Homo sapiens: one gene and its partner. The protein of the gene in region 1 purifies or fractionates together with the protein of each later gene. This does not show direct contact. Each region holds a gene or a part of one and is shown in the gene's direction. Other genes may lie near its edges. The genes, in order: NFATC2IP and PDLIM5.

Region 1 (3,820 bases):
AGCCTCCCGAGTAGCTTGGACTACAGGTGCCCGCCACCATGCCCGACTAATTTATGTATTTTTAGTGGAGGCAGGGCTTCACCATATTGGCCAGGCTGGTCTTGAACTCCTGATCTCAAGTGTTCCCCTGTCTCAGCTTCCCAAAGTGTTGGGATTACAGGCATGAGCCACCGTGCCTGGCCTATTTTATTTTTTAAACATAGAGATGGGGGCCAGGCATGGTGGCTCATTCCTGTAATCCCAGCACTTTGGGAGGCCAAGGTGAGAGGATCACTTGAGGCCAGGAGTTCGAGACCAGCCTGGGCAAAATAGTGAGACCTTGTCTCTACTAAAAATAAAAAAATTAACCAGGCATGGTGGCACATACCTGTAGTCCCAGCGACTTGGGAGGCTGATGCAAGAGGATCTTCTGAGTCCAGGAGTTGGGGGCTGCAGTCAGCTGTGATCATGCCACTGCACTGCAGCCTGGGTGAGAGAGCAAGACCTTGTCTCTTAAAAAAAAAAAAAAATGGAGATGGGATCTTGCTTTGTTGCTCAGGCTGATCTTGAACTCCTGACCTCAAGCAAACCTCCCGCCTCGGCCTCTCAAAATGCTGGGATTATAGGTGTGAGCCATCATGCCTGACCAAGTGCTTTAAAAATATACGAGTTTGTTGTCACCTTTGTGATGGGTGATTTCATACAAAGGTCCAGATTTCTGGCCGGGTGCAGTGCCTCACGCCTGTAATCCCAGCACTTTTGGGAGGTGAAGGCAGGCAGATCACCTGAGGTCAGGAGTTCGAGACCAGCCTAGCCAACATGGTGAAACCCCATCTCTACTAAAAATACAAAAATTAGCTGGGCATGGTGCCACTGCCTTCCAGCCTGGATGAAAGAGCGAGACTCTGCCTCAGATCTCACCTGAGATCAGGAGTTCAAGACCAGCCTGGCCAATATGGTGAAGCCCGCCTCTACTAAAAATAGAAAGAAAAAAAAAAGGTCCAGATTTCTGGCTTCTCTTAAAAAATAAGAAGATGTGGCCAGGTGCGGTGGCTCACACCTGTTATCCCTGTAGTTTGGGAGGCCGAGGCAGGTGGATCACCCGAATTCAAGAGTTCAAGACCAGCCTGGTAGGAGAATCACTTGAACCTGGGAGGCGGAGGTTGCAGTGAGCTGAGATTGCGCCACTACACTCCATCCTGGTTAACAAGAGCGAAACTCCGTCTCAAAAAAAAAAAAAAGAAAAATATAGGAAGATGTCATACTGGCCCACGTTCCCACACAGTGCCAATCAGCTGGAGCTGCGTAACAGCCAGCCTGTCTAGGTGGCATGTGAATTCCAGTTTGCTGCAATCCCCACCACCCCTTTCTTTGTTCTAACCCATGGCTGCTATATTTCTTTGTGTTACTCGCCTGTACCCCTTGCTGACACGATTTTATTCTATACCTTGCCAGGTAAATATGATGAAACTCACAGCTGAGGAGCTTAGCAAGTAGCTAAGGCCAGAGCTTGTGTTTGGGTGGTGTGGCTGGGGGCATGGATTTCAAGGCAGGAAGACCTCTTTTGCTTGTTGTCCCCATCCCTAGTCGGAGCCCCTGCAGAGTGTGGTGGACCACATGGCCACCCACCTTGGGGTGTCCCCAAGCAGGATCCTTTTGCTTTTTGGAGAGACAGAGCTATCACCTACTGCCACTCCCAGGACCCTAAAGCTCGGAGTGGCTGACATCATTGGTGAGAGGAAGGCAGGGAGGTGGGGCCTTGAGGCATTTGCCAGGGGAAGGGGATATGGGGAGAGGTTCAGCACGGGCCCTGCTTCCAAGCCCCCACTTAGCCCTGGCTTCCTGATTCTGCCTCCCACAGACTGTGTGGTACTAACAAGTTCTCCAGAGGCCACAGAGACGTCCCAACAGCTCCAGCTCCGGGTGCAGGGAAAGGAGAAACACCAGACACTGGAAGTCTCACTGTCTCGAGTGAGTGGGAGAGATGGCTCTCCACGCCCCTCACCCTGTCCTCTGCTGCCTCTTGTCTCTCTTGTCAGTTAATGGAGGATGGATTCCCCTAATCTTGACTTGCAGGAGACACTGCCCTCCATGTTCTTGGGTTCCCAGCCATCCTAGGTAGTGGGAAAACCCATCGTTCAACTTCCCTCCCCGCTTCTACTGGTACCCTCTGCCCTAGTCTGGGTGCTCCCTCGGTCTCCTGACTCCTTCTGATTAAAACAGAAAGGACCCTTAGACGGTAATCAATAAAACCCATCAAAATAACAATGAAGGCCACACGGCTAAGTGCTAGTCCCCGTGCTGAGGATAATTTCCTCACATTCAGGATCTTATTTAATTTCACAACAATCTGATGTGGGCCACAAAGCACTGTTGTTATCCTCATTTGGCAATAAGAAGATTGAGTTCTAGAGAGGTGGAATAAGCAACTTGGTGCAGTCATTTTTTTTTTTTTTTTTTTTTTGAGATAGAGTCTCGCCCTGTCGCCCAGGCTGAAGTCTGGCATGATCTTGGCTCACTGCAGCCTCTGCCTTCCGAGTTTCAAGTGATTCTCTTTCCTCAGCCTCCCGTGTAGCTGGGATTACAGGTGCACGTGCTGGGCTAATTTTTGCATTTTTAGTAGAGACAGGGTTTCACCATGTTGGCCAGGCTGGTCTCAAACTCCTGACCTCAAGTGAGCCACCCACCTTGGCCTCCCAAAGTGTTGGGATTACAGGTGTGAGCCACCGCGCCTGGCCTGCTGCATTCATTTCTTAAGTCTACTGTTAACGAAATACACAAATTGGGTGGCTTAAAACAATAGAAACCTATTCCTGTACACTTCTGGAGCCTAGAAGTCTGAATTGAAGGTGTTGGCAGGGCCTGGTTCCGTCTGAGAATCTGAGTGGAAACCTTCCTTACCTCTTTCTAGCTTCTGCTGGTGGCCAGAGTTCCTTGGCTTGCAGCTGTGTCACTCCAGTCTCTCCCTCTGTGATCACACGGTGTTCTCCATGTGTCTCTGTCTGTGTTCGTCTCTCTTCTTGGAAAGACATAGGTCATGTTGGGCTAGCCCCACTCTAACCAAGCACAACCTCATCTCAACTTGATTATATCTGCAAAGTCCCTACTTTAAATAAGGTTACATTCACATTTACTAGGGGTTAGGACCACAAAGTGCCTTTTCAGGGGAATACAGTTCAACCCTTAACACACTGTTCTCTAGCCCCCACCAAATTCATGGCCTTCCCATCTGCAAAATATATACATCCCATTCCAATATCCCTACAAGTCTTAACCCATCCCAGCATCAACTCTTAAGCCCAAAATCTCATTTAAATATAATCAACTCAAGAAGTCCCAATCTTATTTTCTAAATCATTAAATCAGTTTTGGATGAGACTTGGTATGGTCCATTCTGGGACAAAATTCCTCTCTCTCTCTCTCTGCGGACCCGTGAAATCTAGAAAATAAGTTATTTGCTTCTAAAATACAGTGATGGGACAGACATAGGATAGACATTCCCATTTCAAAAGTGAGAAATTGGGCCAGGTGCAGTGGCTCACACCTGTAACCCCAGCACCTGTAATCCTAGCTCCCCAGGCGGCTGAGGCAGGAGGATTGCTTGAGCCTGGGAGATCAAGGTTGTAGTGAGCCATGATTGCGCCACCTTTATTGGAAACTTTTATTCCAGTTACCAATAACACATTCCTCATTTCCTCCAGAGACCTCACCAGAAACACCTTTAATATTCATATTTCTAGCAGCCTTCTGTTCATAACAATATATGCATCCTGTTAAGATGATAGGAGATTTCTCTGCACCTCTCCTCTTTGTGAGCCTGCAGGGACATTCCCTTTAATGT
Region 2 (3,820 bases), on another chromosome or scaffold:
GAGACTTGAAACATTAAATATTTAACCCCCGTAGTTGTAGGGAACATACAGTTATGGTTTTGTTTTGTTTTTTTAAACTTATTGTCCACTGAAATTAAGAAAGGAAAAAAAATCAGAAGTTTGTACTTAGCTGGGAATCTGCATCTTTAGAGTTCAAAACTGTGCAATTTTTCCTCTGATTAGGTATTATTATGTTGAACTCCAAAGGGTCATTTACATTCCTTTATAACACTGGAGCTCTGGTGTATCGAATTGTGTTATGAGATAAGCCACTAGCAGGGACTTGAACATTCCATTTTCTTTAGATTTTGTTGTATCAGCATGTGAATATGCTGAATACAACTTGTATCCTAAAGCATACAAGCTATAACATTTTCACGTTGGACTCAAATTTCTTCATCATCTGTATTGTATGAATTTTGTATACTGTTTTGTTGGTGGATTTCTAACATAAGATTGCCAGTTCCTGCTAGCTTTTTAAAAAGATCCTCAGGTTGCTGTAGCTGGATGATCACATGTCATTTAATTTCCGATCCTTAAAATGGAGTGCGGGCTACCTAAGTTTGCAGGCTGTCTTTTTATGATCCTGTGTTTATGGAATTGCCCTGAAGCCATGGAATGTGAGGATGGGTTTCATTGTAGCAGTGTGGGTTTGTTGGTTTTTGCCAGTATATTTTATAACAAGAAATAGGAGACTTGTTGGATAATTCAAGGCTATATTTTGGCCAGTTGATAAAGATTATATATTTGTGAGTAACATCTTTTAAGTTGTTATATCCTAAAGTTGAAATACTCTGCTGTGTGTTACTTTCTCATTATGTTTGGGCTCTTTTCTTCACTGTCAATATTTGGATTACCTGAAGATGATATCCCAATTCTCTGTAAACACATTTTAGATGTTTCTTTAAGAGATAAGAATTAGGTCAAACTTTTTAACATCTAAATAACAATGACTTTGATTCTCAAGAGTTAGGGGAGGATAAATTGTTATAAGCTTGGACAAAATTCTAATTGGATTTGAAAAGCAGAAGAAACTTACTATTGCTTGGATTATGGAGCCCTGTTTGGGAGTCTAACACAGAACAGAGAAGGACAGAATTGTGAAACACTTTGCTATGAATTCATTGATTCAGTAGTTATAGTAATACTTCCTAGAAGCCACTGAAGAAGATACAAAGTGGGGAGTACAAAGGTTGGATGGAAAAGAAATAAGCACAGTGCTATAGAACTAGACAGTGTCGTAAGACCTGTCACAAGTCAATATTCTATGAAATGACAGATTCTGATAAGTGTTTCTCAGTTTCAGTGGGTGTAAATCTTTTGTTTGTGGGGGTTGGTTTCCTTTAGGAGAAGTTAATTGAACTGATCCTCAAAGGATGAAATTTAAACACCTCAAAGTCAGCATTTCTCCGTGTTGTCCAGTGCCTAGTGAAGATGAAGACTTTTCTTGCCATTGCTTGACTCCAAGTAAAGCTGTGAATGTAGTTGAGCGATTCTCCAGACCTGCCAGCTGCAGTTTCCCTCCTACCGGAAGACAGAAAGACTTTCAGTCCTCAAGCTGAAATGAGAGAGCCATCCTACCTTGAATAAATGGGCCCATTGTTAATTTTAAGCTCTTGAGTATTTTCTTTTATATTCCCTCCAAGCTACCCTGTCATTATGCCAAGTTAGAAAATTAATTTAGTTTGTATAACTATATGATGTATATTTCACATGTGTGTTCACTCTGCTTTAAAAATATTAATTACCTTTTGTGTGAAGTTCAGAGACCTGTCTTTTCCCATGTGGCAGTTTTATATGTTTTGTGGTCACAAATGTCAGGAATCTCAATGTAATTCTGGATAAATTTTTCTGCTCTATGATTTGTAAAGAAATGAAAATCTTATATTTTTTAATTGAAAATTAGTAGTTTTAGAAAAAAACGCACTTATTTGATTTTAGTAAACGTTGGGCATTTTGAAAAGTTATTCAGAGAAATGTTACTGGTAGGCAGGACTTTTGTATCTGATGGAGGAAACCGATGTAGGGTTTGGATAAAATAAGACTAGCAGGCTGGGCACAGTGGCTCACTCCTGTAGTCTCAGCATTTTGGGAGGACAAGGTGGGAGGATCACTTGATACCAAGAGTTCAAGGTTACAGTGGGCTGTAGTCATGCCACTGTACTCCAGTCTGTGCCACAGAACCAGACCCTGTCTCAAAAAAAAAAAAGAAAAAAAAAAAGGTAAGAATAGCACTTTAGACCTTGGGAAAGAACGTTTTCATGTAACTATTCATCTACTCGTGAGTTAGGTATATCTACCTACTTAAACTAAGAATAGATAGATAATAGATAATGTACAGCTGTATATTGGAATGACTTGGATTTAAATCTTAGCTGGAAAATCAGTTCATTAATTTGAGCTTCTGATTTTCTTTGATGTATGGGAAATGCTTTATAAATTAAAAAGTATACAGGTAGATTTGATTATTATTAATAATTTGGAGCCTGTGAGCTTTCAATTTTTTTTAGAACTTCTGAGGCAAAGAGCTTTTCTTTATGATAGTTGCTAGTCACACTACATGTGAATACACAGTTGAACAGTGGTCTTTGTCTATGACATCCTGTTAGCAGTAGTTCTTACCCAGATTCCCATATACCACAGGACCAGTTATATCTTTTTCCCCCAGTTACAACTGTATTGAGGACAAATCAGTTATGATTTAGTTATTTCTAGAAGCAAACGTTGCTTTAGACAAAAAAGGAGTTATTTAGCATCGTATGAGAGAGAATTATGTTTCAACTTTGGCAGATGAGACTCTAGGCCTTTATTTCAGTATCTGAGATGCAAAAAATATTGAGTACGTGACATAAAATTTGACAAAACTAGATATTAGCATGTGAAATAACAATATGTGGATCTGTTTGCAAATAAATGACCTAATGGAAATGAAAAGAGAAAACATTAAGTAACTAAAGAGCAGTGACCATGGTGTCTACTGATTCTTTAGGTATTCTATGTGTTGGGCCACTATATAGTCTTGTTGAGAAGGCAGGTTTGGTTCCTTAATTAACAGAGAGGGAAAAATCACTTTTCTAGCGTACTTTGTTTTTATTAAGAGGTTTTTTTTTTAAAGGTAATAAACTAAGAATGGACAAAGCAGAGAATATTGAATGAGTATCCCCTTATTCCTTCACCTTTCTTATTTTTTTGTTTCCTGTTTAAGTATAGTTATCTACCCTTCTGTAAATACTCAGATTTCTTTTATAGCTGATGTTGTCACCCATTTTTTATGACAATTACTAGAACAGAGTTCACCAACCTTGTTGGCATTTAGTAACTGGACTCCCAACTGGGCTAAGCAGTTGTAGTAAATGTCCCTAATAGGCGTAAATAGAGGAGAGTAAAATGAACTGGAAATGTTAATAGGAGGGAATGAGAAAGAAAAAGTTAGATGAGAGAAAAAAATAAAGAGGACTTTTTAAAAGGCTGCAGCGTGTCACCCAGGCGGGAGTGCAGTGGCGCGATCTCGGCTCACTGCAACCTCCACCTCCTGGGTTCAAGCAGTTCTCTGCCTCAGCCTCTTGAGTAGCTGGGATTACAAGCATTCGCCACCATGCCCAGCTAATTTTTTTGTATTTGTGGTAGAGACAGAGTTTCACCATGTTGGCCAGTCTGGTCTCGAACTCCTGACCTTTGATCCAGCCACCTCAGCCTCCCAAAGTGCTGGGATTACAGGCGTGAGCCACTGCACCCAGCTTAATTTTCTTTAGGTAAGACATTCATATGGTTCAAAATTCAAAAGATACACGAGCGTATAGGGGGAAATGTCTCCTGGTGC

Evidence for each region.
Region 2: the proteins of NFATC2IP (region 1) and PDLIM5 purify together in Homo sapiens (affinity purification with mass spectrometry; 2 studies listed by BioGRID and IntAct, with this or other methods). This does not show direct contact.

Annotation. Positions count from the first base shown.
Region 1 is NC_000016.10:28,957,151-28,960,970, forward strand, and holds part of NFATC2IP (NFATC2-interacting protein), read left to right. Parts: intron 1-1,432; exon of another isoform or gene 1,433-1,511; intron 1,512-1,566; coding exon 1,567-1,711; intron 1,712-1,840; coding exon 1,841-1,950; intron 1,951-3,820. UniProt on the Homo sapiens protein: In T-helper 2 (Th2) cells, regulates the magnitude of NFAT-driven transcription of a specific subset of cytokine genes, including IL3, IL4, IL5 and IL13, but not IL2.
Region 2 is NC_000004.12:94,458,424-94,462,243, forward strand, and holds part of PDLIM5 (PDZ and LIM domain protein 5), read left to right. Parts: intron 1-3,820. UniProt on the Homo sapiens protein: May play an important role in the heart development by scaffolding PKC to the Z-disk region. May play a role in the regulation of cardiomyocyte expansion. Isoforms lacking the LIM domains may negatively modulate the scaffolding activity of isoform 1.